Homo sapiens: one gene and its partners. The protein of the gene in region 1 purifies or fractionates together with the protein of each later gene. This does not show direct contact. Each region holds a gene or a part of one and is shown on either strand. Other genes may lie near its edges. The genes, in order: DDX19B, CAPG, NDRG2, SERPINA3, AKR1B10, FGG and TF.

The links.
Region 2: the proteins of DDX19B (region 1) and CAPG purify together in Homo sapiens (affinity purification with mass spectrometry; 2 studies listed by BioGRID and IntAct, with this or other methods). This does not show direct contact.
Region 3: the proteins of DDX19B (region 1) and NDRG2 purify together in Homo sapiens (affinity purification with mass spectrometry; 2 studies listed by BioGRID and IntAct, with this or other methods). This does not show direct contact.
Region 4: the proteins of DDX19B (region 1) and SERPINA3 purify together in Homo sapiens (affinity purification with mass spectrometry; 2 studies listed by BioGRID and IntAct, with this or other methods). This does not show direct contact.
Region 5: the proteins of DDX19B (region 1) and AKR1B10 purify together in Homo sapiens (affinity purification with mass spectrometry; 2 studies listed by BioGRID and IntAct, with this or other methods). This does not show direct contact.
Region 6: the proteins of DDX19B (region 1) and FGG purify together in Homo sapiens (affinity purification with mass spectrometry; 2 studies listed by BioGRID and IntAct, with this or other methods). This does not show direct contact.
Region 7: the proteins of DDX19B (region 1) and TF purify together in Homo sapiens (affinity purification with mass spectrometry; 2 studies listed by BioGRID and IntAct, with this or other methods). This does not show direct contact.

The regions. Positions count from the first base shown.
Region 1 is NC_000016.10:70,305,231-70,309,331, forward strand, and holds part of DDX19B (ATP-dependent RNA helicase DDX19B), read left to right. Parts: intron 1-4,101. UniProt on the Homo sapiens protein: ATP-dependent RNA helicase involved in mRNA export from the nucleus.
Region 2 is NC_000002.12:85,400,088-85,404,188, forward strand, and holds part of CAPG (macrophage-capping protein), read right to left. Parts: intron 2,072-4,101; 5' UTR 2,059-2,071; coding exon 2,036-2,058; intron 1,871-2,035; coding exon 1,698-1,870; intron 1,597-1,697; coding exon 1,442-1,596; intron 1,243-1,441; coding exon 1,078-1,242; intron 1-1,077. UniProt on the Homo sapiens protein: Calcium-sensitive protein which reversibly blocks the barbed ends of actin filaments but does not sever preformed actin filaments. May play an important role in macrophage function.
Region 3 is NC_000014.9:21,021,971-21,026,741, forward strand, and holds the start of NDRG2 (protein NDRG2), read right to left. Parts: upstream 3,092-4,771; 5' UTR 2,060-3,091; exon of another isoform or gene 2,006-2,059; intron 1,538-2,005; exon of another isoform or gene 1,352-1,537; coding exon of another isoform or gene 1,346-1,351; coding exon 1,271-1,345; intron 936-1,270; coding exon 894-935; intron 528-893; coding exon 422-527; intron 213-421; coding exon 92-212; intron 1-91. UniProt on the Homo sapiens protein: Contributes to the regulation of the Wnt signaling pathway. Down-regulates CTNNB1-mediated transcriptional activation of target genes, such as CCND1, and may thereby act as tumor suppressor. May be involved in dendritic cell and neuron differentiation.
Region 4 is NC_000014.9:94,618,891-94,622,390, reverse strand, and holds part of SERPINA3 (alpha-1-antichymotrypsin precursor), read right to left. Parts: intron 3,197-3,500; coding exon 2,923-3,196; intron 51-2,922; coding exon 1-50. UniProt on the Homo sapiens protein: Although its physiological function is unclear, it can inhibit neutrophil cathepsin G and mast cell chymase, both of which can convert angiotensin-1 to the active angiotensin-2.
Region 5 is NC_000007.14:134,525,979-134,530,703, reverse strand, and holds the start of AKR1B10 (aldo-keto reductase family 1 member B10), read right to left. Parts: upstream 3,138-4,725; 5' UTR 2,793-3,137; coding exon 2,727-2,792; intron 62-2,726; coding exon 1-61. UniProt on the Homo sapiens protein: Catalyzes the NADPH-dependent reduction of a wide variety of carbonyl-containing compounds to their corresponding alcohols. Displays strong enzymatic activity toward all-trans-retinal, 9-cis-retinal, and 13-cis-retinal.
Region 6 is NC_000004.12:154,603,228-154,606,821, forward strand, and holds the end of FGG (fibrinogen gamma chain isoform gamma-B precursor), read right to left. Parts: coding exon 3,478-3,594; intron 1,840-3,477; coding exon 1,607-1,839; 3' UTR 1,128-1,606; coding exon of another isoform or gene 1,113-1,127; 3' UTR 944-1,112; downstream 1-943. UniProt on the Homo sapiens protein: Together with fibrinogen alpha (FGA) and fibrinogen beta (FGB), polymerizes to form an insoluble fibrin matrix. Has a major function in hemostasis as one of the primary components of blood clots.
Region 7 is NC_000003.12:133,749,032-133,753,132, forward strand, and holds part of TF (serotransferrin isoform 1 precursor), read left to right. Parts: intron 1-4,101. UniProt on the Homo sapiens protein: Transferrins are iron binding transport proteins which can bind two Fe(3+) ions in association with the binding of an anion, usually bicarbonate.

The DNA of each region.
Region 1 (4,101 bases):
TCCTGCCTAGATGGTGGAGGTCTGACTCAGTGTTCTGGAATCTAGGTGGAGGAAAGGGTGAGGGAGGTCTCAGGACCCAGAATACCTGCTTCCACTTAATGCTTCTGTTTTCATTATGGCATCCCCTCCCTTAACTGTGGTCCTTATCCATTTGAGCATTTCTCATGCCTAACCTGGCAGGCATTGTTAACTGAGTAAATGAACTGTGTAGTTTGTTATTTGTTGCAAAGAAACTTTTGATCATTCACTCTCAATATGTAAATATCTATTTAGAAATTGCATACTTTACTGTTTTATTAAATATATTATGTACATTGTAAAGCAAATAAAAAAGTAATAAAGGCTGAGATAAAAATGAAATAATGCTTTCCTGTGCTTGTGTGTGCTGGCTTCATATTTTTATTAGCCAATATCTCAAGGCACAATATACACTTAGAAAAAAAACACATCATTAGTCAACGTAGAGATAAATATGTGTTTCAAGTAGTTCTGAGAGGTTTTTTGTTTTTTTAATTATTATTTTTTAAATTTTTATGTATTTATTTTTTGAGACAGAGTCTCACTCTGTCGCCCAGGCTGGAGTGCAGTGGCGCAATCTCGGCTCACTGCAAGCTCCACCTCCTGGGTTCACGCCATTCTCCTGCCTCAGCTTCCCGAGTAGCTGGGACTACAGGCGCCCACCACCATGCCCAGCTAATTTTTTTGTATTTTTTTGGTAGAGATGAGGTTTCACCGTGTTAGCCAGGATGGTCTCGATCTTCTGACCTCGTGATCCGCCCGCCTCGGCCTCCCAAAGTGCTGGGATTACAGGCATGACCCACAGCACCCGGCCTGTTTTTTTTATTTTTTAGTTCTGAGAGTTTTGACTATTTTAACTAACTTCTTGTTAGGTCAGTTTTGTTGTTGTTGTTGTTGTTGTTTGTTGTTGTTGTTGTTTTTGAAATAGAGTCTTACTTTGTCACCCAGGCTGGAATGCAGTGGTGTGTACATGGCTCACTGCACCCTTGACCTCCCAGGCTCATGCAGTCCTCCCACCTCAGCCTTGCAAGTAGCTGGGACTACAGGTGTGCACCACCACACCTGGCAAATTTTTGTATGTTTTGTAGACATAGGGTTTCACCATGTTGCTCAGGGCAGTCTCAAGTTCCTGAGCTCAAGCTATCACCTGCCTTGGCCTTCCAAAGTGCTGGGATTATAGGCATGAGCCACTGCACCCGGCCATTCAGGTCAGGTTAAATTGTCATTGTTTTAACCTATTAATGTGCCTAAGAGGGTTTGTTAGGAGTAGGTAGCTTTGACATTTTCTTTTTGGCTTGAGTTTGCATCATAGAGTTATCTTTTGGATAGAACAGAAACTCATAATAATGAATCCAGTGATAATAAAAACTCAGGTATGAAATGATTAACTCTTGCTGTTTTTAGCAGGCCCAAACTAGCCATTTTATTAACCTTACAACAACAAATTCCTGCATTTTATGAAACAGAATCTTGAGACCCTATTATTATGACATTATGGTGAGATTAAAGTGTACAGTTCACTGATGGTTGGTGTATTCAGAAGTGTGTAGCTTATATCACAGTCAATTTTAGAACATTTTCATCACCCCAAAAGGAAACTCTGTACACATTAGCAGTTACTCCCTGTTTCCCTACAAACTCCCCAGCTCTAGGCAATCACTAATCTACTTTCTGTCTCTTTAGATTTGCCTCTTTTAAACATTTCATATAAATGGGAACATACGGTATGTGATCCTTTGTGACTGGCTCCTTTTATTTAGTATAATGAACTAAGGTTCATTAGTTGTAGCATGTATCAGTACTTTATTCCTTATTGTTGCCAAATAATATTCCATTGTGTGGATATACCACATTTTATTTATCCACTTATCAATTTCTGGACATTTGGATTATTTCTACTTTTTAGCTACTATGAATAATACTGCTTTTGATTAATGTACAAGTTTTTGTGTGGACATATAGTTTCAATACTCGGGTATATATCTAGAAGTGGGACTGCTGGATTATATAGTAATTCTGTATTTAACTTTTGAGAAAGTGCCAGGATGTTTTCCAAAGCAGCTGCATCATTAATCTTTAAGATTAATATTGTCTATGAAATAATATGTCTTTTTTTATTTTTTATTTTTTGGAGACAAGAGTCTCGCACTGTCTCCCAGGCTGGAGTGCAGTGGCACCATCTCGGCTCACTGCAACCTCTGCCTCCCGGGTTTAAGCGATTCTCATGCCTCAGCTTCCTAAGTAGGTGGGATTACAAGCACGTGCCACCATGCCCAGCCAATTTTTCATATTTCAGTAGAGATGGGGTTTCATCATGTTGCCCACAGTGCTCTCGAACTCCTGAGCTCAGGCAATCCATCCATCTCGGCCTCCCAAAGTACTAGGATTACAGGCGTGAGCCATCACATCTGGCCATATGTATATATATGTGTGTGTGTGTGTGTGTATGTATATATGTGTGTGTGTGTATATATGTGTGTATTTTTTTTAATAGAGATGGGGTCTCATTCTGTCACCCAGGCTGGAATGCAGTGGCAAGATCATAGCACACTGTAACCTGGAACTCCTGGGCTCAAGCAATCCTCCCACCTCAGCCTCCCTGGTAGCTGGGACTATGGGCACATACCACCATGCCCAGCTAATATATTTATTTATTTTATTTTAAAATTTATTTAAATTTATTATTTATTTATGTATTTATTTTTATTTATTTATTTATTTTGAGACGGAGTCTCACTCTGCTGCCAAGGCTGGAGTGCAGTGGCACCATGTCGGCTCACTGCAACCTCTGTCTCCTGGGTTCAAGTAATTCTCCTGCCTCAGCCTCCTGAGTAGCTGGGATTACAGGCACCCACCACCATGCCCAGCTAGTTTTTATATTTTTAGTAGAGACAGGTTTTCACCATGTTGGCCAGTCTGGTCTCGAACTCCTGACCTCAGGTGATCCACCTGCCTCGGCCTCCCAAAGTGCTGGGATTACAGGCGTGAGCCACCACACCCGGTCTATTTATTTATTTATTTTTAAGACAGAGTCTCACTCTGTTGCCCAAGCTGGAGTGCAATGGTGTGATCTTGGCTCACTGCAACCTCCAACTCCCAGGTTCAAGTGATTCTCCTGCCTCAGCCTCCTGCGCCACCACACCTGGCTAATTTTTTTTATATTTTTTTAGTAGAGACAGGGTTTTACCATGTTGGTCAGGCTGGTCTCGAACTCCTGACCTCAGGTGATCAGCCTGCCTCAGCCTCCCAAAGCTCTGGGATTACAGGAATGAGCCACCATGCCCAGCCTATTTATTTATTTTTTAGGAGATGGGGTCTCACTATGTTACCCAGGCTTGTCTCGAACTCCATGAGTTCCAAGGATCCTCCCTCCTCGGCCTCCAAAAGTGCTGGGATTCAAGTCACAAGCCACCATGCCCTGTCAATATTTTTATTTTTAATCTTTATAGAGGTGGAGTCTCACTATGTTGCCCAGGCTTGTCTCAAACTCCTGGCCTCAAGGGAGCCTCCCATTTCAGCCTCCCAAAGTGCTGGGATTACAGGTGTGAGCCACTGTGCCCAGCTGTTTTTTTTTTTTTAAAGTTCTAGGGTGCATGTGCAGGATGTGCATGTTTGTTACATAGGTAAACATGTACCATGGTGGTTTGCTGCACCTATCAACCCATCACCTAAGTATTAAGCCCCACATGTATTAGCTCTTTTTCCTAATGCTGTCCCCCACTGCCCTCCCCCATTAGTGTATTCTTTATCCTTCAGAATTAGTGAAGGATTTTTACTGCTTTATAATGATTTCTTTTTTTTTTTGTTTGTTTTTCAGTCGGCTTTCTCCAGTTGAATGGTTTCCTTTTTGTTAAGTTGCTTTTTTCTAATCTCTTTAATGTGTTCCCTTTCTTTTTCCTCTTTCCCAACACCAAAGCAGAAAGGGACCAGAAACTTCTTGTCCATTTCCATGAATAGAAATGGGAGGCTGGGCGCGGTGGCTTATGCCTGTAATCCCAGCACTTCGGGAGGCCGAGGCGGGCAGATCACGAGGTCAGGAGATCGAGACCATCCTGGCTAACACGGTGAAACCCCGTCTCTACT
Region 2 (4,101 bases), on another chromosome or scaffold:
CTTAACCACCTATCTCCACCTACTAGAAAGTGAGCTTCATTAGGACATGAAGGTTTTGTTTGGCTTTGCTCACCACTGTGGGCCCACTGCTAAAACAGAGCCCGGCATGGATTTAGGCGCAAAATAAATATTGACTGACTGAGTGAAGGACTGGATGGGTGAATGGCTGAATGGCTCCTTGAGCGCAGCATCTCACACTTCTACCCACCGCCCTGCCAGGCAGAGCCCCTGTCACCTCTCCTTTTCTGGTAATGGCGAGGTCTGTTCACCTGTCCCCTTCCTTGTCTCAGCACGTGTAGTCCTCACCAAGAGCTCCTGGATTGATCTCCCTGCCCCAAATCTTCAGCGCCACAAGACGCAGCCCATACTCCTCAGCCAGCCAATCTCCTCATGACCTAGGGCTCACCTTCCACCTTGCTTAGGAATTTCCCTCCCCCTGCTCCTGTCCCCCAGCCCGGGTCCCAGTCTCACTAGACCCCTGGTGTGTGCATGTCTGCACCCTTCCCCACCTTGGTGGCTCAGCTCACCTTCTCCCTTTGCCTGGAGTGGCATCTCCCCTCCTATAGGTCTAGTCCAATGTCACCTTCCTGGGACAACTGGCTTCGGCTCAGGCTAGAGGGCCCCTCCCTGCCCCAAGACCCCCCCAGCACATGGCAGCTGTCCCCCTTAAAGCCCTCATCACATCCTGCCTCAGGTTATGGCAAGTGACTGGCCCATCTTGGCTGCCTCCCCAGAGCGAGCTTTTATGGTCCCTGTGCTGGCTCAGAGAGAGCATCATAGATTCACTGAACGAAGAGATAAATGACTGAATTAATGAATGGTCTGGCAGGCAGTGAACTCAGAGGCTTCCAAGAGGAGGGAAAAAGCTCCAGAGCATCAGAGGCAATGTCTAGATGGCAGAAGGAGGCTGGCATCAGTCCTTACAAATATAGGGACATTCTCCAATGGTCAGAGTGATCTCACTTGGAATGGGTTTACGGCTTCTCAGCTTCTCTCCCTCTTTCCTGGCCTCCTGCCCCTCCGTCCTTATAAAGGATGGTGCCAATACGGAGTGCTCAGTCTGGCCAGCCTACCCACCTGGCCCAGGTCCAGGATGAAGCAGTCCCCAGTGTTGAAGCTGTCCCAGTTCAGTGCCCGCTCGGTGGCACGGATGTTCTTCTTCCCCTTCACCTGGTAGAGTTTCTTGATGGCAGCTGGGGCTCCTGTGGAGGTCTTGTGAAATGCTGACTCCACACCACCTTCCTGCAGCCCAGACGGCCCATCTGAGTGGACTGACAGGAGACCCAGAGCCCTCTGCACCCCATCCCACTGGAAGACGGGCAGAAAGGTGGGGACCCGGCTCCAAAGGCACCCGGGTCTTCTGCAGGGTGAGAACCAGCCAGAAGCAGGGCTGGCTCTGAGGGAAGCTGCAGGGTGGGGGTGCCTAGAGGTGGGCTCTGACCTGGTACTTGAGGCCCCGTGGGAAGTAGCTCATGAAGAGGTCAGACTCATTGCCCTGCACCTCGCGGTGCTGCACAGGCCGCTCTCCCAGCAGCGTGTTGAGGTGCACAGCCAGCACGGCACAGGCCCCCTGCTCATCCCGGGATGACTGCTGGCCTGGGACAAGTGGGAGAGGGCAGGGCAAGGCCCTTGTGATCCATACCAGCCCCCTCCCTCCCCTTCCTGGGCCCAACCTTCCCCCATCCAGATCCCCTTACCTATCCACAGGTGCAGATGGGAAACCTCTTCTGGGCCATTGTGCAGCACTAGGTAGGAGTCCCCCGAGAAGAAGACGCCCTGGTTCTCTTGCGCCACAGGCACCGGCTTCAGCTTCTCCACCCGCCACACATGCAGGCCTGGATCCTGCACTGAGCCTGGGAATGGAGAGCCACTGCGAGAAGAGAGAGGGTTGACAGCAGCCTGGACCCACTTGCCCAAGCACAGCCCTGGGCAGGCCTGGCGACTGCAGTCTGGGGATGAGGAGAGCAGTGGGGAGGGGCAGCCCTTGGAGGTAAAGAAGGGGAAGTTGTGAAAGGAGATGGGGCATGCAGCTTACCTCTGGGGAATGGCTGTGTACATGCTGTCTTCAGATCTGGAAAGAAAGAAGAAGCCATTATTATTACAAATGCCACAAAAAGGACCTCTCACGTGGGGCTGGAGAGGCCCTTTCCAGTGGCCAAGTACTTTCATATTCATCAACTACTCCACCTCTAGGAGCCCTAGTTCCATTATGCAGACAAAGAAAATGAGTCTCAGAAATGAGTCCAAGGCCACACAGCTAGTGAGTGGTTCATGGAAATAAGGTCTCTGACCCCTGGGCCAGGGTCTTCCGTCTGCTGAGATCTCACAGAAATTAAAATAAAAGCAGAAATTAACAGAAAACAGAAACAAGAGAGAAGAGCAATGAATTTTTTTTTTGAGACTGAGTCTCACTCTGTTGCCCAGGCTGGAGTGCAGTGGTGCGATCTCGCCTCACTGCAACCTCCGCCTCCCGGGTTCAAGTAATCCTCCGGTCTCAGCCACCCAAGCAGCTGGGATTACAGGCAACACCATCACACCTGGCTAATTTTTGTATTTTTAGTAGAGATGGGGTTTTGCCATGTTGCCCAGGCTGGTGTTGAACTCCTAACCTCAAGTGATTTGCCCATCTCAGCCTCCCAAAGTGCCGAGAGTATAGGCATGAGCCACCATGCCTGGCCTCAAGTTGGCTTTTTTTTTTTTGGAGACAGAGTCTCACTCTGTCACTCAGGCTGGAGTGCAGTGGCGTGATCTCAGCTCACTGCGACCTCTGCCTCATGAGTTCAAGTGATTCTTGTGCCTCAGCTTCCCAAGTAGCTGGGATTACAGGCCCACACCACCACGCCTGGCTAATTTTTGTATTTTTAGTAGAGACAGGGTTTCACCATGTTGGCCAGGCTGGTCTTAAACTCCTGACCTCAGGTGATTCACGCGCCTCAGCCTCCCAAAGTGTTGGTATTACAGGCGTGAGCCACCGTGCCTGGCAAGTTGTTTTTTTAAACCGATAAAATTGATAAATCTTTAGACAAACTGATTAACAGAAAGAGAAAACACAAATATCAATACAGAAATGAGAGATGTGAGATCACCATAGATTTTACAGATATTAAAAGGATAAAGGGAATATTATAAAAACTTTATGCCAATATATTCAACCACTTATATAAAATGGGCAAATTCCTTCAAAGACACAAATTATGAAAGCTCATTCAAGAAGACACAGATTATCTGAACAGTGGCCATATCTATTAAAGAAAATAAATTTGTAGTAAAAAACTCGTTCCCCCGCCAAAAAACCCAAGCCCAGATGGCTTCCCTGGTAATTTCTACCAAAAATTTAAAAAGGACATAATACCAATTGTACACAAAATCTTCAAAAAAAGAGATGACAGAACACTTCTCAATTCATCCTATGCTGCCAACATTCTCCTGATAACAAAACCAGATAAATATATTATGCAAAAAGAAAATTACAGATCAGTATCTCTCATGAACATACACATACAAAAATTAACACAATTTGGCTGGACACGGTGGCTCACGCCTGTAATCCCAGCACTTTGGGAGGCCAAGGTGGGTGGATCATGAGGTCAGGAGTTCGAGACCAGCCTGGCCAACATGGTGAAACCCTATCTCTACTAAAAATACAAAAATTTGCTGGGTGTGGTGGCACGTGCCTATAGTCCCAGCTACTCAGGAGGCTGAGGCGGGAAAATTGCTTGAACCCAAGAGGCAGAGGCTGCAGTGAGCTAAGCCCATGCCATTGTACTCCAGCCTGGGTGACAGAGTGAGACTCCATCTCAAAAAAAAAAAAAAAAAAAAAAAATTAACAAAATTTTAGCAAATGAAATCAAATAATATATAAAAAATAAACCATGATGACCAAATGAGGTTTATCCCAGGAATGCAAGGTTGGTTTAATATCTGAAAATCAGGGTGATGATAGCTAATAATAATGCAGTGTATATTTCAAGATAGCCAGAAGAGAGGATTTGAATGTTATCATCACAAAGAAATGATAAATGTTTAAAGTGATGGATATGCTAATTACCTTGATTTGATCATTATACAATATATACACATACATTGCATATGTACAATGAA
Region 3 (4,771 bases), on another chromosome or scaffold:
CTGCCCTCCCTTTCCTCCTCCCCAGTCGAACCTTTCCCGCACCTGTCCTGTTCCTCACAGTCTGGTGAAGCAGTAACGACCTAACTCTTACCCCAAAGGGAACACAGGGGCTCCCTCTTCCATTCCAGGGGCATCCACATGAACCCGCACAAAGTTCTGAATGATTTCCTGCATGTCCTCGAACTGAAACAGTGGCTGGAAGCAAGATTTATCTAAAGAGAACCCACATCACCTCAACAATAGAATCAGACAGGGACTCGTGTCCCCCAGTCAGAACTCACCCTTCCTTTCATGCCACAGTCAGACCAGGAGAGAACTTCTCCTTCCCACACTGACCCCTCCCCTCCCTCTGGGTTTCATTTCTACCCTTCCCCCACAGCCTCTTCCCAGACAGGAGTGGGAGATGAATGAAGGTCCTTACAGTTGAGTCCCACATCGTGGTAGGTAAGGATCGCTGGGCGTTTGGGTTTGGGGGTGCCATAGACAGTGAAAGTGACAGAGCCGTATGGTGTCTCCACAGAGTGAGTCTGCAGGAAAACAGGGCACCAAGAGCTAGGCTCAGAGGAGACGAGGCCAGAAAAGGAGCAACACCAAGGTCAGGGAGCTGGGAGTGGGTGGGCAAGAGGGAAAAGGGAACAAAGAATTAAAAACAGGATCAGCAAGAATTGAGGAAAACATGATACCGGAAGATGAGTTTGAGGATAAGAAAGAATAATGAAGATTAGAGAGAGAAGAGGAGGGGAAGGAAGGAGAGGGGAGAGATAGGGAAGGGAAAGGACTAGAATAGAAGGAAAGAAAGCAAAGAGAGAAGAGAGGGCCAAGCAGAGGCCATCCTTCTACTGGGGAAGAGGACAGCCCCTCCTCCCACCTTGGGACTGCCCCCACACTGTTACCTGTCCCTGGTCCAGGAGGATTCGGGCAGCTAACTCAGCCTCCTGGAGAGACACACACGGATTCACACAGAAACACATGACCATGTGGCGTCCCAGATGGAGAGACAAACAGACAAAGAGAGGCAAGTAAAGACAGACCAACAAATGACCAAAGACAGAAAGAGATTGACAAAGAGAGACACGGAAAGGATGAAGGTTAGTGTAGTGACGAGACAAGGGCCTGACTCCCAATTATAGTGTATGGGGAGAGAGACTAGGGTAGTGGTGAAGCAGTGGTGTGAGTTAGAATAAGATCAGTACGCTTGGGAAGTTAGAAGGCAAGGGGGATGCTTAGAGGTCTGGAATTTGGGCATGGGAGTCAAACGGTCTCTAATAACCTTGGCCGCCTCAGGCGTCTGTCCTGGCAACAGTGGCTTCTCCTCTGTGATCTGCACCTCCTGCAGCTCCGCCATGGTGGCCTGGCAGGATGAGGAAATGAGACTGGGAAGTTGTCTCTACATCCCCACATCGCCTCAAACACCAGGCTTCCTCTCTCAGCACAGGAAGATGCAGGGAACAGAGGGACCCAGGGGTTGAAGACTACTCTAGAACACACAGAGGGCCTTTCCTGCCCCCAGCTCCGTTTCCAGGCTGATCGGTGGAAGCTTTGGAAGAGGAATCAGGACAGCCCTTCTCTTGATACTCACCATCCCCACTGCCACCCTCAACACCACACCTCCAGACCCCTCCCTCCTCTGCCCTGGACCAAAATACCAGGGTGGGGCAGAAGTGTAGCTCAGATTTCTCGGGCTATATTTAGGGGCCACCCCACACTCTCAGGTAGGGAGTGAAACTTGTAGCTCAGTGACTGAGTATTCTAAAGGACAGGGTACCAAAAGACGGGACTGTGAGAGTTCACAATTGACCATGACCTTCAATTAAAGCCCCAAAGTCGGCAGCTCAAAGGGGGCTAAAAATGACCAAAGCAACATGACCAATGGGGGAGGTGGGGAAAACAACATAAAAGGGACATCTGTCCAACCAACCCAATGCCTCCCTTCCTCCCAAGACCCTTCCTCCCAACTCTGAATAAACTCCGCAAGTTCAACATTAGTGGGTGAGGAGCAGAGCACCTGGACAGACCTGCACAGGAAGGAGCCTGCAGCCTGCGGGGTGGGGTCACTTACTGGGCTCCTATTGGCTGGATGCAGTGGGATTAGGGGTCAGGGTTCTCACTCCTTCTGACTCTGGGGTCTGAGAAAACACAGCAACGAGGTGAATGACATGGGAGACAGACCTGGGGTCTTTCAGGGACGGAAAGCCTCAGCCAAGACCCAGACTCCCAGGGTCATCAACCTCCTCGGGTCACTAACCCTCCCCAGTGTCTGTCTACCCCTAAGTCCAGAGAACACGTCCTCTCTAGGCTCGAGCCGGAATCAATATAGGCTACAAGGGCATCAGTTCAGGCTGCGCGGAGGAGAGAAGGAAGTGCTGATGTGGAGGTAAGAGGGTGGCCCTGTCAGAACCTCCGGATTCGAATCCCGGCTCTGCCACTCCCAGTGTGACCTTGCCCCAGTTAGTTACTACATTTGGCCTCAATTTTCTATCTGCAGGGGGACTAAACGCGGGGGAATAGGGGATCCCCAAAATTTTTGACAGCTCTCCAGTAAGAGGAGGGTAGCAGAGCATGGCTGTTTCCCTCCACAATTTAAAAACAAACACAAAGATTGGTGCCGTCGCTTCTCTCCTCTACTCAGTCTCCGTGTAGGTCCCACGAGTGGAGAAAGGGAGAGGAGAGCGGTCCCACAATCTTCTCCCGTTCTCCCCCGACGGCCCGCGAAGGCAAGCGCCATCGGGAAGGGATGGGTAGGACAGAGGAGACCGGCCGGGCCCAGCACCCGGAACCCGTCCCTACGAGTCCCTACGCAGCCCGTCCGCGTGGAGACTGACACCCTTGCGTGGCCGGTGCCAAGCGCCCCGGACCTTGCACACAACCTCGCGCGCACCCCAAACACGCCCTGCAGCTCTTGGAGCCTCAGCCTTTGTGCGCAGCAACCGAGCGCCCGCTCCGTGCTGGCCCTTTCCCCCGAGCCTCCAGCTCCAGGGGACGCGGATCAATCACACCGCCCGCCGGCCCGGCTGGCGCCTTCCAGGCCCTACGGCCCCTCGCCTGCCCCTCCCCCTACCTGCTGCCGCCGCGGCCGCTTCCACCTTCACTTGCCTTTGACTCGGGCCCGCCCCGGCTCGGGCTTCCCGCAGACCCGCCCCCGGCCCGCCCCAGCCCGCCCACGGGCGCTAGGCTCCCCGCAGACCCGCCCCAGACCCCCAGTAAACACGCCCCCCCTTTCACCCCGCCCAGACTGCCGCTCAGGAAAGGGTTGTGCTGGGGCCGGGGGGCGAGGGGCGGGCGGCTGGACGCTTCCAGGCTCTGCTCGGCTCACCAAAACATTCCACCACCCCCTCCCCGCATTGGGGCGGTGTGGGGAGTGCGGGGATCCCTCAGCCCTGAGAGGGATCCCTCGGCTGCCCTCAGCACCGCCCCATCCACGACCTGGATCTGCAATTGCACTCTGGCTCCTTCCTTCGCCCCCAGACTCAGTGGTGGGAACCGGTAGTGGGGAGACGAACCCGGGATACTGACACCCCACGAGTTCGACTCCCCCCGCCCGAACACAGAGAACTAGATTAAGAAAGGAGGAGGTGGGCGGGACCGCCGCTGAGGAGGCGGGGGTCTCGCCGGCTGGCAGGGGCAGGTGTGCTGGCGCCGAAAGGGGGCACGGGGGAACGTCGAGGGCGCAGGAGTTCCGACTCCCTCGTGCCCAGAGTCCTGGTACCTCTCCTCTCTTTGCTGCGTCCCGACGCCTGCTCTCCGGCTGCTCCGGGAGAAGTTGGACAACAAGGCGGGGAGGTGGGGGCGGGGAATGCGGGGGGCCGCTATAAATAGAGGGCGATCGCGGGCAGGCGGGGGGTGGGGAGAGGATGGCCAACAGGGACTCTGGGGTCAATGCCTCAAGGGGCGCGGGGGAGGGGCCGGGGACCCCCAGAGGCTCTGACTCCTGGGTAAACAGGCGCAGGGGCGGAGTTAACCCTGCGGGGGTGGAGTAGGGGCTTGGGGAGGACGCAGTGTCCTGGGCTGGGACCCAAGAGACCCTGTGGCTTCGCCGCTAACCCCTCCCAGTCCGGCCCAGAATAGGAGACCAGCTCAGGCCCGCTGAATCGCAATGCCCGGGGGATGGTCTCAGGGTCTGCCGCGTCCCTCTCGGTGCCCGAGTGGGTTTGCCACTGTAGACTTTACACACACACGCACACGCACACACACACACACACCCTGGAATGAGCTCTCCTTGTGCCCCTCGGAGGAAGGCTCCCTGGAATGAGTTAGTTGATTAAAAATGTGGCTTAAGGGAATTCGAAGTTGTTTAGGCAAAAGGAAACCTGACTGAATTTCTCCCCACCTGCCCCCCTTGTAGCTCCCCCAATCCCAGGATCATATCCACCCCAACCCCCTTCAGACTGGTTCCTGAGTTGCCATTTCGGGGGCTGGGCGCCAGGCCAGTCAGGAACAATGGCCAATGGAACTTGAGCTGCCAACTGCAACACCAGCACCGACTGCCCCCCCAAGACCCCCAAGTTTCCCTGCCCCCTCCTGCCTGGGAACCACCCTCCCACCACCACCCTCACCACCCGCAATACCCCTCCCATCCAAGGAACATCAATGCCCCTTTCATCCCCACTTGGCAGGGTCTACTGGAAAGAAGGAGAGGCCAAGAGGGAGGAGGTGACCCACAGTAGGAAAACTGGTCGGGCTAAAACCCAGCCTTCAACAACCCCAAATCTAAGGAGCTCCCCCTACATCCCCCAATTTGGAGCACCCAACTTTTCTTCTGTTCCTTTCTCCC
Region 4 (3,500 bases), on another chromosome or scaffold:
TATAGTCCCTCGAGATGGAAAACTTTGGCAGGTAGAGCTCACCTATCTCTCTAGAAAACGAGAAAAAAAAAGTATCTGAACCTCTGCTGATCAGTACCTACCTGCCTCCCACCTCGCAGCATGGTCTTCCCTGGTTTCCTCTACAGTCACCCCCTTCTGATTGGAAAATAAATAATCTGTTCCTCAATTTCTTAACCCCTGTCTTTACTCTTCTTATTCATTAATTATTCATTCAGATCTGCAAGTGTGAAAGTCTCCAGGCAGCACACCAAGCCTGGAGTTGTGGCCCTGCTCGAGCCTGGCCCTGCCCTTTCCCTGCAGCTTGCAATGCAGTTGAAGCACCTTCACACCAGCAGGGACCCCTGAGTGTGTTGAGAGCCTGGGCTGGGCCAGCTGCAGTGGCTGCATGGCAGCCTGCTTCACGGGGGCACCAGGAGGGCTTCCTGTAGGAGGTGGTGTTGAGGCTGAGTCCCAAAGGCAGGAAAGGAGCTAGCTAGGTGAAGAGGTGGGCAGGAGGCAGGTGGAAGAACCTGGAAGAAGGTGGGAGCAGGAGGAGTTGCTCCACGGGGCGGTGGGTGATCTCAGTGTTTCAGGGAGGAGGGTAGTGAGGGATGAGGTGGGCCAGGAGCCAGAGGCAGGTCAAAAAGGGCCTGGGGGCCTCTGAAGAGTCTGATTGTGTTAGAAGAGCTTTGGGGATCCTGAAACAATCAATTGGAGGTTCCCATCTTGCCTCACCAGTGGGCACTGTCCCTCAAGCCAGGTGTGGGCTGGCATAGAGCAGGTAGCAAGCTCCTAGAGGCCCAGGTCACACCTGCCACCTGCAAACTCCCCCTCCCTTAGTTTATAGCCCTCTTAAGATGCCTGTCACTGTCTGCCTGGTCTTACAATTATACAGGAGGCTGTGTCTTCCATTAAACTCTGAGTCCCCTGAAGGAGGAAGGTGTCCTATTTCTATTTTTATTCATTCATTCATGTGTTTGTCCGTTCATTCCATCCTTCATTCAACAAGTATCTATTGAGCATTCTCTGTGGGCCAGGAGTGTGTGGACACATGTTTCCTCAGCATTTTGTAAATCAAAAGTGTTTGGAGAATTCTTTCCACTCAAAATTATCTGCTGAGCCCCTGCTCCCTGGTGGCTATTAGGTGCTAAAGGAGGAAGGAGTCTGGGAGTAAACGGATGGGTTGGGTAGGACCCCCACGTTCTGGGGTCTCCTGGGATCTAGAGTGAGGAGGGGCTGAGGGTCAGGCAATCCCGAGAGGTGTCCGGCCTTCTGGACAGTGGTTGGGGCAGGGGTTGCAGCCTCAGGTTAGTGTTGAAGCAGCTCCCTTGCCCTTAGTGGTTTATTATGGCTTCAACATACAATACCTCACCGGATTCTCACAATCACCCAGTGAAAACAGGGGTGGTGGGGAAAGGACATTCCTTTCTCTTCAGGAGGTAGCTGAGCTCCAGAGAAGAGCAGCGACCTGCTCCAGGTCACACCAGCCACCACGGTCTGAACCCAAGGCTGGTGCTCCTTCCTCTCTACCCCACACAGCTGCCCACATGCACTCCCTGGGCCCACTGCAGGGTCTGGGCCCGGAACTACTGCTCCTCCTCACTGTGTCCCCATGAAATCGGTCAGCTCAATTCCGTGTGTCCCAGCAAGTTCCTCTACCCTCAGATTTATCCAGAACTCAATGACTTCTCACATGCATGGCTCCCTCCTGGATCCCAGCCACAGTGGGCTCCCACCTCATGTCTGTGCCTGGTTCCTGCGGGTGTCACTGACTCCATACCTGCTCTACAGTTATTCTCCTCTCAGCAGCCAGGATTAGTCTTTTAAAACAACACTCGGATCGCAGCACTCCTCCAAACCTCCTGATGGCTCTCCATTTCACACACAGGAGGAAGGGCAAGGTTTTCTAGGGGTCTACGTGGCCCTACCTAAGCTGCTCCACCCCTTTGGGGACTCCTGACCTCTCTCAACTCTCTCCTCACTCTCTCTGCTCCTGCACCGTGGTGGAGCTGAAGTACACAGGCAATGCCAGCGCACTCTTCATCCTCCCTGATCAAGACAAGATGGAGGAAGTGGAAGCCCAGCTGCTCTGGCCTGACTCTTCTTTGACCACATCAAGCTCACTTCCACCTCAGAGGCCTTGCACTGACTGTTCCCTCTGCCAGGAATGCTTTTCCCTAATATACCAACATGACTCCACCCCTCCCCTCTGTTATATGGATGCTCAAACATCACCTAATGGCTACTCTATCTAAAATCACAAACTAACACGAGTTCCAGTTTTCCTGATCCTTTCATCCTCCTCTACTCAATTTCTATCCCCTTACTCAATTTCTCACCTTCTAATATATCACGTAACTTATTTGTTATATTTATTTATTGCCTGTCCCCTCTCCAATTACAAATTAAGCTCCAGGAGGGCAGGGAATCTTGTGTTTTATTTGCTGATTTACTCTCAGGGTGCAAATTAGTGTCTGACACATAGTAGGTGCTCAATTAATCATGCAGCAAATGCTGAGAGAATGAATAAATACAGTGGTTCACCAGTGCAGAACTGATTCTCAGAGTCCATCTCACTGCAGCCCTCAACTGATCACAATTCCTTCTGTTTCTCTCTCCCTTCAAGAGATTGAGACCAGGAGAAACCATGCATGAGTGTTTGGGACTGTGCAGAAGATTTCTCATGACTTAGAACATGCTGGAGTCAGAGGAAGCCTCAGCCCCTTGTCCTGTCTGATGTCATTGTCTTAAAGAAGAAAAAGAAAAATCAAGCCCAAAGCCATGTAGGCAGCATAGGGCAAAGTAAGTGTAAATTCCACCTGTCCCTGTATGAGTTCTCCCACCACCATGCCCTTGTCCCTGGACATTGGTGAGACCTTGACGTGGAGAGATGTGGGGTCTTTGGGGGCCAGGAAGAATCACCTGAACTCCAGAGAGTCTCTCCACCGCTTCAGGGTCTCTGGGAGCAGCATGGCTTCCACTTCCTCCATCTTGTCTTGATCAGGGAGGATGAAGAGTGCGCTGGCATTGCCTGTGTACTTCAGCTCCACCACGGTGCAGGACAGCTCCTCGTCCCGGAAGTAAGGTATAGTCAGGTGATGCAAACTCATCATGGGCACCATTACCCACTTTTTCTTGCTCAAGTAGAACCTTGACTGATGAGTATCTTGGGGGTCAAAGGGCATCTCCCATTTGGCTGAAGGTGGAGCAAGCAGTTGGAGAAGGTGTGAGTGCAAGGGTCGCCCTGCTCGACCCTGCTTCCGCAGCAGTGGAAGTGCCCAGAGTCCCTCATAGGAGGGACCCTGCTTTGGTTTAGAGAAGTAGCTTGGCAAGAGTAAAAGTTATTGGGGGTGAGGGAGAGCCCAGCAGGCTTGGATTGGGAAAAGGGCCACAAAAGAAAGACCTAGTTCCTTGTGCTAAATGAGAAATCAATAGGAACCAGGGAATAAGGAGTGCAAGAGAGAAAGAAGGTTTAGGGAAAGTGGGGGAAAGAGGCATGA
Region 5 (4,725 bases), on another chromosome or scaffold:
TGTGCCGATATCCTGCATCAATGGCCACCTTCACTGCTTCTTTCACTTTGCCAAGAGGAGACTGAAAGGCAAAAGAAAAGCTCATCACATATGTGTTTTTTTTAAGAGATGGGGCCCTGCCGTGTTGCCCAGGCTGGCCTCACACTCCCAGGTTCAAGCAACCCTCCCACCTCCCGAGTAGCTGGAATTACACCACTCTCAGCAACCATCATATTCTCTTATCCCCAGGCCACCTTCAACAGGCTGCCCCACAAGGCCCAGTTTCTCCAAACCAAGGCCTCACTGGGGTCTCCTTTGCCAGGGGATCTCTGGGAGGATACACACTTTACAAAACTTTTCAAAAGAAAAGAAGGAAAGTGAATTATTTTATGATTATGTCCTTATGTCCTATCCTAGCTAAAAGTCAGTTCCCTTTTCATCCAGGTTAGTCCTGAAATGTCTTCAGGTGTGTGGGGGTGCAGACCGCTCCACTACAACTTTCTGAAGACCCAGATGAAAGCTTGACTCTAAATAACCCCAAGGGATTTTCAGACAATTTCCCCAAATGGTGATAAGGATCTGGATAATGGTCATTACACCATCAATCTGGATTCGATCACTTACTGGGTGTGTGGGTCTAAGCAGGTGATTCAATCTCTGTAAACCTTGTATGCAAAATGGAAAAAAAAATAGCACCAGCCTCATGAGGCCTTTGTGGTGATGAGATGCTGCAATGAATATTAAGCTTTTTGCACATTACCTGACACACAGTAAGGTTCAGTAGAGGCCATCATTATACAATGATCGTTTCAGAAAAAAAAGAGAAATAGAAAACCTTATAGGAATAGAGTTTGTTTTCCACTCCTGTAAAAAGAAAGAGAGAGGGAGGGGAATGACAGAGAGGGAGAGAAAGAAGGGAAGGAAAGAAAAGAAAAGAAAGAAAAAAAGAAAAGAAGGGAAATAGAATTATCACATTTTGTTCTAACCTAGCCAAGCCAATGATGGGGGCAAAAAAGCACTTAAAACTTGATCTCTCACAAAATGGTCTTTTAAACCTCTTCAATTGTGAGATAACAAACATTGAACAGTACACAAAACAGAGATGCACAGCTACCCTACCACCTGGACAAGAAACGAGCTGCTGCCAGGCACCCAGAAGCAGCCCTGTGCCCCCAACCGCTACGCTACACCCTTCTTCACCTCCACTGCTAAGTTCATAATCCTTTAGTCTATCATCCCCACGTGTTGAAGACAGCTCCCTTCATAATTCTTTCATTCAATTCCAAAATTATGAAACTGTCTGGTAAACTCACCCAGGGTGAGTAGATTCCCTGGAGATCTGGAAGTGATTATTTATTCTGTTTATACAGGATTGAAGGTCTGATTTTGGGCAAATCTTGCTATTCAAGCAAGAGACGCTCTGCATGAATCAAGCTGGAAGTGATCTGTTCCTCCAGATACACCAAGAATGTATCCTGAGGATGACCCAGTGCTGCAGCAGAGGGTCCTAACCTCTAGCTTGGGACAGAAGAGAAGAAAAATCAGGGTGCACAGAAGGAAAGAGAGCCAGAGGCAGAAGTCTCAGCAGGGACATTAGCCATGAGGGACAGGAGAGAAGAGGAACTCCAAAGACTGCTTCTCATCACTAGTTAGGGTAGTGCTATCATGGATGGAAATGGCAAAGAAGGCAGAGGGAGGTGGTGATGGAACAACTTGAAACTTAGCCTAACAGAGGCTCGGGAACCTGCCTCACTGAGTCCTGGATGTGCCTTACCACATTTTGCCAGCTGTCGTTAACACAGCCGGGTGGTGCTCACGACTCCCAGCCCAGGCTCTCTGCAGCCCCAGCATGTTGCAGATTTCAATGTGTACAGGAACCACGTAGGGATCTTGTTAAAGTGCAGATGCCCATTAGGTAGCCTGGGTTGGAGCCTGAGACTCTGCATTTTGTTTCTCTCTGTCTCTCTTTCTTTCTCTCTCTCTCTTTCTCTCTTTCTTGCTTTCTTGGATCTCACTCTGTTGCCCAGACTGGAGTGCAGTGGCACAATCACTGCTCATTGCAGCCTTGACCCCTCAGGCTCAACACTCAATCTCCACCTCAGCCTCCCAAGTGGCTGGGACTACAGGTGCGTGCCACCATGCCCAGAAAATTTATTTATTTTTTGTAGAAATGGATTCTTGCCATGTTGCCCAGGCTGGTCTCCAACTCCTGGGCTCAAGCAACCCTCCCGTCTGGATTTCCCAAAGTGCTGGGATTACAGGGATAAGCCACCACACCTGGCCAGTTTGCATTTCTAGCAAGTTTCCAGGTCATAGGGATGCTGCTAGCCCAAGTCTCACACCGTGATCTGCAAAGGGGTGCCAAGGACTTCGGGCTCTGCATCCTCTCCTCAACCACCCAGCCCACAACAAACCCACAGCCAAGACTTGGGGGAAACGTTGAGCCCAATTAAGTGTCCTAGAACCAGAGAGAGAAACTGCCCTGGAAAACAGTTTTAAGTCCAACAGCTGCTTGAAATTTGATACTTGCTAGAGAAGCTCTCATCACTGCTGGGAAAGCCAGCCTTGGAGCTTTGCAGCCTGAATCAGCTCTGAGAAAAGAAAGCAACCTAAGTCCTGGCTCCAGGGCTGAATCTTACCTCTCCAACCCCTGCCCGACCTCCAGGCTTTCCTGGCTGAATGCAGAAAGAGAAAACACCCAAACGCCCCTCCAGAGAAGAAGGGTGTGCAAAGATTTGCATATTTACCTTCCAAGTGCCCAGGCCCACAATGGGCATCTTGGCTTTGGTACTGAGCTCCACAAACGTGGCCATGGTTGGTGCAGAAATGATTCTGAGTGAGCAGGTAGAAGTCTCACGTCCTGCTCTCTGTTGCTGTTTTTGAGACAGTCTTGCACTGTTGCCAAGGCTAGAGTGCAGTGGTGCGATCTCAGCTCACTACAACCTCTGTCTCCTGGGTTCAAGCAATTCTCCTGCCTCAGCCTCCCGAGTAGCTGGGATTACAGGCGCCCACCGTGACTCCCAGCTAATTTTTATATTGTTAGTAGAGACAGGCTGGTCTCAAACTCCTGAGCTCAGGTGATCCGCCCACCTCGGCCTTCCAAAGTGCTGGGATTACAGGTGTGAGCTACTGTGCCCGGCCACAGGCTGCTTAAGAAGGCTGCTGCTATCTACAGTGGGAGGAGTTGGAGCCTGGCCACAGTAGCTTCCCTGCCATAACCAAACAGGAAATCCATTCCAGGCTTTTGTGAGATTGAGGATTCTGTGAATGAATTATTAAACATGGCAACCTTGTGCAAAGTTCTCTCTTAGGTGACAGTATCATTGGAGTTTCTGCTTGTTCAGGATGAGTCAACAAATTCAACACAGCCAAAAGTTGGAAGGTAGGGAGGGAGACAGCAAGGAAGAAAAGAAGAGTTGGAGGAGGGAGGGAAAGAAGTCTGGCCAACATAGTGAAACCCTGCCTCTACTAAAAATACAAAAATTAGCCGGGCGTGGGGGCACGTATCTGCAATCCCAGCTACTTGGGAGGCTGAGAAAGGAGAATCACTTGAACCTGGGAGGCGGAGGTTGCAATGAGCCTAGATCATGCCACTGCACTCCAGCCTGGGCGACAGACAGTGAGACCCTGTCTCAAAAAAAAGAAAGAAAGAAGGGAAGGCAGGAAGGAAGAAAGGAAAGAAGGAAGGAAGGAAGGAAGGAAGGAAGGAGGGAGGGAGGGAGGGAGGGAGGAAGGAAAGAAAGAAGGAAGGAGAGAAAGAAAGCAAAGCAAAGAAGGAAGAAAAAACAAGGGCTTGCTTTCCCTGTGATGGTTTCCTCTGTGAAATAGAGTCTAGGGAGGAGAGGTGAGAAGCAGCGTTTCAATTTTAAAAGTTGCAATTGCAGGTTCAGTGCAGAGATGGTCAAATCCCGACCTGATTGGAGTCAGCTGTAACTAGTTGGTAGTCAGCAATCTAGGGAACATGATATAGGCCTGTGCCATGCTGTGACACGCCATGACAGGCCAGGGCCACGTCACAGCATCTGTTTCAGCCTGCCGGTAGTGGGTTTTTCTGTCTTTTACATGTTCTTGTTGATGAGTTGGCTTTGGTTGAATCTTGAAATGGAATTGAATCTCTAGGCTGTGGCTTATGACAGCTCATAGAAGGCAATTGGCATGATATTTTGCAACTATGAGTGAAAAATCTTATACTTCATTGATGTTTGTTAAATTATCTACTTCAACATTAATAATAATGCATGGGCCGGGCATGGTGTCTCACACCTGTAATCCCAGCACTTTGGGAGGCCGAGGCAGGTAGATCACTTGAGCTTAGGGGTTTGAGACCAGCCTGGCCAACATGGTGAAACCCTGTCTCTGCTAAAAATCCAAAAATTAGCGAGGCATGATGGCACGTACCTATAGTCCCCGCTGCTTGGGAGGCCTGAGAATCCCTTGAACCTGGGAGGTGGAGAATGCAGTGAGCCAAGATGGTGCCACTGCACTATAGCCTGGGCGACAGAGACAGACTCTGTCCCAAAAATAAATAATTAAATACATGCATTCCTCATAATCTGGTGGCCACAAAGTCTCCTGGATATGCACTTGCGGCACTTTATTTTCCCAGTGTATACTGGATGACATGCAGTGCTAGTATTGTTGAAATAGTAAATCCTTAGTGACTGTCAACCTAAATAACAGAGAGAGGGTCCCTACAAGAAAAATATTTCTCTGGGAATAGAGCACTGCAATGGGAATATGCATGCC
Region 6 (3,594 bases), on another chromosome or scaffold:
GGCATTTGAGACCAGCCTGGGCAACACAGTGAGACTCTTTCTCTACAAAAATAAAAATTAAAGAAAAATTAGGCAGGTGTGATGGTGCACTCCTGTAGTCACAGCTACTCGGGAGGCTGAGGAAGGAGGATCACTTGAGCCCAGGAGTTCAAGGCTGGCTGCAGTGAGCTACTGTTGTGCCACTGCATTACAGACTGGGTGACAGAGTGAGACCCTATATCCAAAAAAAAAAAGGAAAGGCAAGAAGAAAGAAAGAAGTGTGAAAAGAAAGAGAGTGCAAAGCCAAAGCTCAGGACTTCGGAACAACCAGACCCACCTCATAAAATTAGCCAATTACTTCCCACAGTCAGCCTTTTGCTAAGTTATGTAGATTTAGCTATTCCTTAGAAAGTTGGCGAATGAACCTGAACTCAGGCTGCTAAAAAGTCAATATCCCTGAATCAGAAGGAAGAGATGGTTCCATTCAGCTCACCTCATGACTAGTGAGAGATAGGGCAAATAGCTCCCTAAAGCTCTCTGCTCTGAGTTGCAGTCCTTTCAGAGTGACCAGGTCCCACCACAGGTGTTTGGAGCTAAAAGGTTCTGCTGGGAGACTCCCCAAGCAGCTTTCCTGTCTCCAGCTGCACTTTGGATACTATGCATCTTGGTTGTGTGGCTGTGACTCCTGCTTAGTGATTATGTTCTTGTATAGAGTATTGTCAGTTTGGGTTGCTGTATTTTCCTGTATTTGTCCTGTATCTCCTAGAGGGCAAAAGCCATAATTGCTATTTCCTTTGTAACTCCCAAAGAGTTAGGCATAACATTTAGCATAAAATGAGGACTCAATTACTACTGATGGTTGCCCAATTGTAATTGGTAAATTGGCAAAAAGTGGTGGTTTTTAATGGTCAATAAAGGTACCATGTATCTAGTCTTAGGAAACAAAAGGTTTATTGAAATGCATGTAGATAAATTATCATCAGCATAAAACTGTTATGGAGTTTTCAACATGGGGTCTTTTGCTCTTAAAATGAAGTGAAGCTTTGCAAGTCCATTGTCCAATAGGAAAAATATTATATCTCTCTGTTCAGATAAAGTCCTTTAAAAAAGTAAATCTCTTTTGAAACGGTCTTTTAAACGTCTCCAGCCTGTGAATATATAACAAAACAAAAACCATATTAAAAAGACATAATTTTCTCCATTTAAAAAGAAGAATTAAATAGGAATGATTTAGGGGTAATAAACAAGGAAAATACCTGGGAATTTGAAACTCTAAAATGTTCTCCTATTTTATTAAGTACATACTAAAATATTTGATATAATGAAAATAATTTACGAAGACAAAATAAATGACAAGTGGTCATAAAAATGCAAATAAAGTCAATCATTTTATTATTATATATTTAGGAACAAAGTTGAAATGTTATCTCCTCAAATAAACAATTTTTAAATAACTCTGATATCAGTAATTTGGAAATACAGTCCTAAATGAGTTTTAATTTCCATTGAAGGCTAAATGTCCTTAATAGAAGACTTGAAATCAATAAATATAGTAAGAGAAAAAAGGAAGAAACTTTCAGAGAATTTCTGAAACTTTGTGGGTCAATAGAAGTTAGCAGTTAATTTTCTACAAATCATCCTCAGGGTAAAGTGAGTCATATTCTGTTTCCGCAGGGTGCTCTGGTCTGACCTGTTTGGCTCCCCCCAGGTGGTGTTGCTGTCCTTCTCCAATTGTGAGTCTGTTGAATGGGATTATCTTCATAGTGGTTTTCTTCATGGAATACCACCGGGTTTTCCAAGTGGCCCAAATAATGCCATTATCATAACCATTAGGAGTAGATGCTTTTGAGTAAGTGCCACCTAAAACAAGTCGTAGATGTACATATCATTATTCTGGAATCTTTTTACCTCTGCAAGTCTATGAAGAGCTGTCTATTACGAAGTGCATTGCCAGTTACATAAAATTTATAGTATTATCTGCTAACTGAAAATATCTCCAAAGATTCCTAAAATATCAATTTATAAAATAAACATATTATTAAACAACATCTGTGCTGTGACTCATAGTCACATCCACACTTTAAATTTATTCACTACTAGTAGGGCTAGAAACCCAAAGTTCCCTAATTGGCCTCTGTCCCTAAGCTTATCCATCCCGGACTCAGCTGCTGTGGACCATCTTTCTTCAGGCAGGTTAGAAGAGAAGGAGCCACAAAATTCCTGATGAGGTCAACTCAGGTTATTTGAAAGCACAATTTTGTTGGTTGATTGAGGAGCTTTAGGAAATGGTTCTGGCATGTTATTTTATGTCTCCATTTTAAAGTGCAGCCTCTGTTGATTTGCCTTCTCCTTGTCCTAGGGAAGCAGATCTCATGTAATTCTGTAAAAGGCTTGTCAGAGCACAACACTGGCATGAACTACAGCTCTGGCATGGCGCCCCGGGTCACACAGATCAAGCATTTTCCCTTAGAGTTTCTTCTCATTATGTGGTTTGTGAGTGCAAAGATAAGTTATGTTTCTCCAATTTAAAAATATTGTGAAAATCAAACTGTTACTTTAAATAAACTGTGCAAAGTTTCCTAGTTGGTGATTGGCTAGGACATCAGGAGGTAAGGTTGCTCATCTTGGTAGATGAGGAGACTATGGTTTGCTACAAGCCCGGAGTGGTTTGGAACACTGGTTTCACTCATCTACCCAGCAGATATGGTAGGGAAGTCCTACTGATGCTAAACAGGTCTGGTCTGACTGTTTGGCTTTCCCAGGGTGGTGTTGCTGTCCTTCTCCAACGGAGAGTCTGTTGAGTGGGATTATCTTCATAGTGGTTTTATTCATGGAATACCACTGGGATTTCCAAATAATGCCATTATTGTAACATGGATCCTTTAGCATCGGTAAGGCTTCCCCACACATAACTGCTGGGTAGGTGAGTGAAACCAGTGTTCCAAACCATTCCAAGCTTATAGCAAACTATAGCCTCCTCATCCAACCCCCATCCTAAAATAAGTGTCTACTGTCCTCAGACTGGTCTCTTCTCTCAAGCTTTCACAAACCCCTGCCCTTACCAGTGCTTGCCTTCTCTTTATTCTGTTCCTCCAAACACCTGTTCACTGCGTGTATCTGACACAAAGCTCATGGGAAGCCAGGTTAATGTGTCAACAAGCATCCATGTAGTAATGTTAATCCATCCAGATCATTTATGTTGTATGTCTAAAGGAGATCCCACAACCCACAGTGCCAGCTATGATGGTGATAGTTTCACATATAATGCCAAACTACTGGATATTTTGCAGCAGGTGGATTTCTTTAGAAGGGCTAATTTTAGGCATGAACTTGGTATTATCCACTTCCAGTTTCAAAGAACTTAGTTGAAATAAAGAACATGATAAAATCCCTACTATCTTTATAAATTATTCTTCATTTCTTCATATCTATTTATTATTTTTTATGAAAATAGTATACACTATACATTAACTTGGAATCTAAGAAAGGAAAACATACCTTGGTAATAAACTCCATTGAGATGGCCAGCGTGACACTTGTTCATCCACCAACCAGATCCATCCTGTTCAGCACAGTTGCCTTCAAACTTATCATTGTCATTGTCCCAGGTACTGA
Region 7 (4,101 bases), on another chromosome or scaffold:
ATGCCTGTAATCCCAGCTACTTGGGAGGCTGAGGCAGGAGAATCACTTGAACCGGGGAGGCAGAGGTTGCAGTGAGCCAAGATCCTGCCACTGCACTCCAGCCTAGGTGACAGAGTGAGGCTCCATCTCAAAATAAATAAATAAATAAGAATGCCCACTATCAAAATTATTATATAACCTTCTTTGGCAGCTTTTGATACACAACTGGGAAGATGAGTGATGCATGCAGGGGGAAGAGTAAAGTGTCCTGATTGCAGGTGACAGCTGATCTTTTTGTTCTTAGGTCTACAAAAATGCTCTTCATTCTTTCAACGTTGCCCCTGCCCATCTGTACATGTCAGATCCTGTGCTGGGCAATGGGGCTGCAGTGGTGAATTAAACACATTGGTCCTTACCCTCAGGGAGCTCATGGGCTAGTCAGGAGAGCAGAAAAACACACGAATAAGTAAACTACTAATTCCAAAATGTGGGGATGTACAATGGAGGGAAAAAGGAGAGTGTTCTGACAGGGACTCACAGAAAAACCTGCTTTGTCCTGGGTGGTCAGAGACCATCTCTCTGAGAGAGATGTAATGAAGGACTGAGCCTGGGTGGGCTCCAGTGTAAAATACACCAGGCAGCAAACAAGAGCATATGCAAAGGGCCTGAGGCAGAGCAGAGTGGGCTTATTTAAGTTGCTAGTGGGAGGCCAGGGTGATGGGAGCTGTCAAAGATAAGCACAGCCAGATATTAGTTTAGGCAGTGACAATAGGTTTCATTCAGTAACTGCTGACAGTGGGGGAAAGAGCTAGGCTCCATTCTGATTTGTGCAGTGGTGATGTGAGCATTTTAAAGGGAGAATGAGGGAGGGGAGAACGCAGGGCTCTGTAGAGTCAGAGAAGTAAAAAGGTAGAAAGGGCTGGTCAGTGTAAATGTGAGGAGGCCAGCTGTGTCTGATAGCTGGCAGTTCTCTCGATTAGGACTCTATTCTCCCGCAGAGACTGCGAGACAGACACTCTATCCATCCTGATGATTGTGTTGCAAAGGAATGGCTCTCAGTCCTTGAGAGAGATGCTTGTGAGTTTCAAGAGATACATATTCACAGTTTTAAGTCCTTTTTAGTAAATTCTCTTGGAAAGGGAGGTCAGGGGCCTATCATCAGTTGTGTGTTGAGTAGAAGAAACAGGTACATTTTCCTGGCAGCACTGAGTTTTCTCAGGCAAGCACTTTAAGGGGAACCGGGCCATCCTAGGGACACAGATTTGTTCTGCTAGGAGCCATGCCAGAGTCTGGTCAGGTCTCTTAGTGCAGAGGTTTGGACAGATGTGTCAAGTGTGGGAAATTCTACAGTTCTCAGCACAAAGCAAGCAGTAGGTTAGCCGAAGGGAAAAGGTGGAAGAAACATCCAGATGCAGCCTGGCTTCCCTCAATCCCCGCGCTGGGGTTTTCCGTGTCTTTCTGCTGGCTTCCCCTTGGCTTCCCTCCAGCCTTCTCTCTGTAGCTTTCCCTCTTCTGGGTTTGGTTATTTTGACTTGTGAGAGCTTGCTTGATTATAATCCTGTCCCTCCCAGCTGGCGCAGGTTCCCCTGGGAACCCTGCAGCTCTAGGGCTGGACGCTGTGTTTTAGGCCTTAGCTCTTTGGCTCCCTGAGCCCCCGAGGCACCAGTGATTTCTTGGTGTCTTGGCAAAGAAAGACCAGGTTCCTGACCACTCTCCCAACCCCACTGCAATGGGCAAAGCTCTCGTTTGTTTGCTTCATTTTTTAAAAAATATATATATATTTTATTATACTTTAAGTTCTAGGGTACAAGTGCACAACATGCAGGTTTGTTACATATGTACACATGTGCCATGTTGGTGTGCTGCACCCTGTTTGCTTCATTTTTATTCAACAATGTGAGGACTGGGGAAGGGAAGGTGTTTGCAGATTAAACAAAACCACGAAGTGTGTTTCATATATAAGGTCTAGTTGTTGTGGAACAGAAAGGCCCATGATGTCTGTTAATTTTGTTTTGTATTGTGGTATATTAAAAATATGTTTTACAACCCAAATATCCATTGATGAGTGAATAGATAAATAAAATGTGGTAAACACAAATGATGAAATATTTTTAGCCTTAAAAATAAATGAAACTCTGATATATGCTACACTGAGATGAACCTTGAAAACATAAGTGAAGCAAGCTAGATACAAAAGGACAAATATTGTAAGATTCCACTTTTTTTTTTTTTTTTTTTTTGAGACGGAGTTTCGCTCTGTCGCCCAGGCTGGAGTGCAGTGGCGCGATCTCGACTCACTGCAAGCTCCGCCTCCCGGGTTCACGCCATTCTCCTGCCTCAGCCTCCCGTGTAGCTGGGACTACAGGCGCGCGCCACCATGCCCGGCTAATTTTTGTATTTTTAGTAGAGACGGGGTTTCACCGTGTTAGCCAGTATGGTCTCGATCTCCTGACCTCGTGATCCGCCCGTCTCGGCCTCCCAAAGTTCCACTTTTATGAAGTATCTAGAATAGTCAAATTTATAGAAACAGAAAGTAGCATAATGACTACCAGGGGCTGGAGTGGGGGAGAAATAGGAGGTAATTGTTTAATGTGTAAAGAGTTTCAGTTTCTGGAGATGGATAGATGTGATGGCTATAAAACAACGTGAATGCATGTACTTAATGCCACTAAAATGTACACTTGAAAATGGTTAAAATTGGCTGGGTGCGGTGGCTCACGCCTGTAATCCCAGCACTTTGGGAGGCCGAGGCGGGTGGATCACCTGAGGTCAGGAGTTTGAGACCAGCCTGGCCAACATGGTGAAACCCCATCTCTACTAAAAAAAATACAAAAATTAGCCGGGTGTGATGGCAGGCGCCTTAATCCCAGCTACTTGGGAGGCAGAGGCAGGAGAATCGTTTGAACCCTGGAGGCAGAGGTTACAGTGAGCCGAGATTGAGCCATTGCACTCAAGCCTGAGGGACAAGAGCGAGACTGCTGATATAGTTTGTCTTACAACATATTTTATTTCATTTAGAAATACTATTGTCTTATTACTTGATTGTAACACAACAAAGTTCATGGAACTATAGCTTTTGCTTTGTAATTTTTTTTTTTTTTTTTGAGAGTCTTGCTCTGTCACCTAGGCTAGAGTGCAGTGGTACAATCTCGGCTCACTGCAACCTCTGCATCCCAGGTTCAAGCGATTCTCCTGCCTCAGCTTCCCAAGTGGCTGGTATTACAGGCATGTGCCACCAAGCCCAGCTAATTTTTGTTTGTTTGTTTTGGTAGAGACAGTGTTTCACCATATTGGCTAGGCTGGTCTCGAACTCCTAACCTCAGGTGATCCACTTGCCTAGGCTTCCCAAAGTGCTGGAAGTACAAGGTATGAGCCACTATACCTGGCCTGCTTTGTAATTTGATCAATAAGAAATCTTCATAGAGAACTGGCAAGGGCTTCTGGAAAAATCATTTTGATTAAAGACATTTAAAACAAAAAAGGAGTAAAACTATGTGTTTAAGTGTCTAAATAAAAGATGGTTGGGCTCACTTTAAGGATTTACATAAAAAGAAAATAAATTATAGATCTAGTAAGAAGGCAGCTATAATATTTCAAGGGACCTGTTGATGTAAAGATGAGGGCTTACAGAAGCACAAAGTCAAAAAGGAACATAACCTGAAGTAACAGTGTAATGATAAGAAATAAACCCGGAATGTCTGCACTGAAATCCCAGCTCCATGACTTACTGGCTATGTGGCCCAGGGAAGTGACTTAACCTTTCTGTGCCTCATATTTCTCACTTGTAAAATGGAGCTGAGAGAGAAAGAGAGATGAGCTGCCCATGTGTTGGAGTAGACAATTATACCAGAGATGAGCAAAAATGGAAATAATAATCAAGCTTTTGATCATTCAGTACATAGTATCACCAAGAAGCTAAACCCAGAGAAAGTGCCCAATCCCTCAGCAAAAGGGTCATGCAGTTTTATGGACCCAGGACAGGAAGGAAGAGCATTGAGTACTGAGTCAGAGTGAAGACGAATGTTTTCAAGGTTCCCATCTTCCCCCAGAAAAAAAATCTCCACAGAAGCACCTGAGGAAGACCTCAAAGGAAGTCTCAAAATAAAGAGGGCTCTGAGCAAA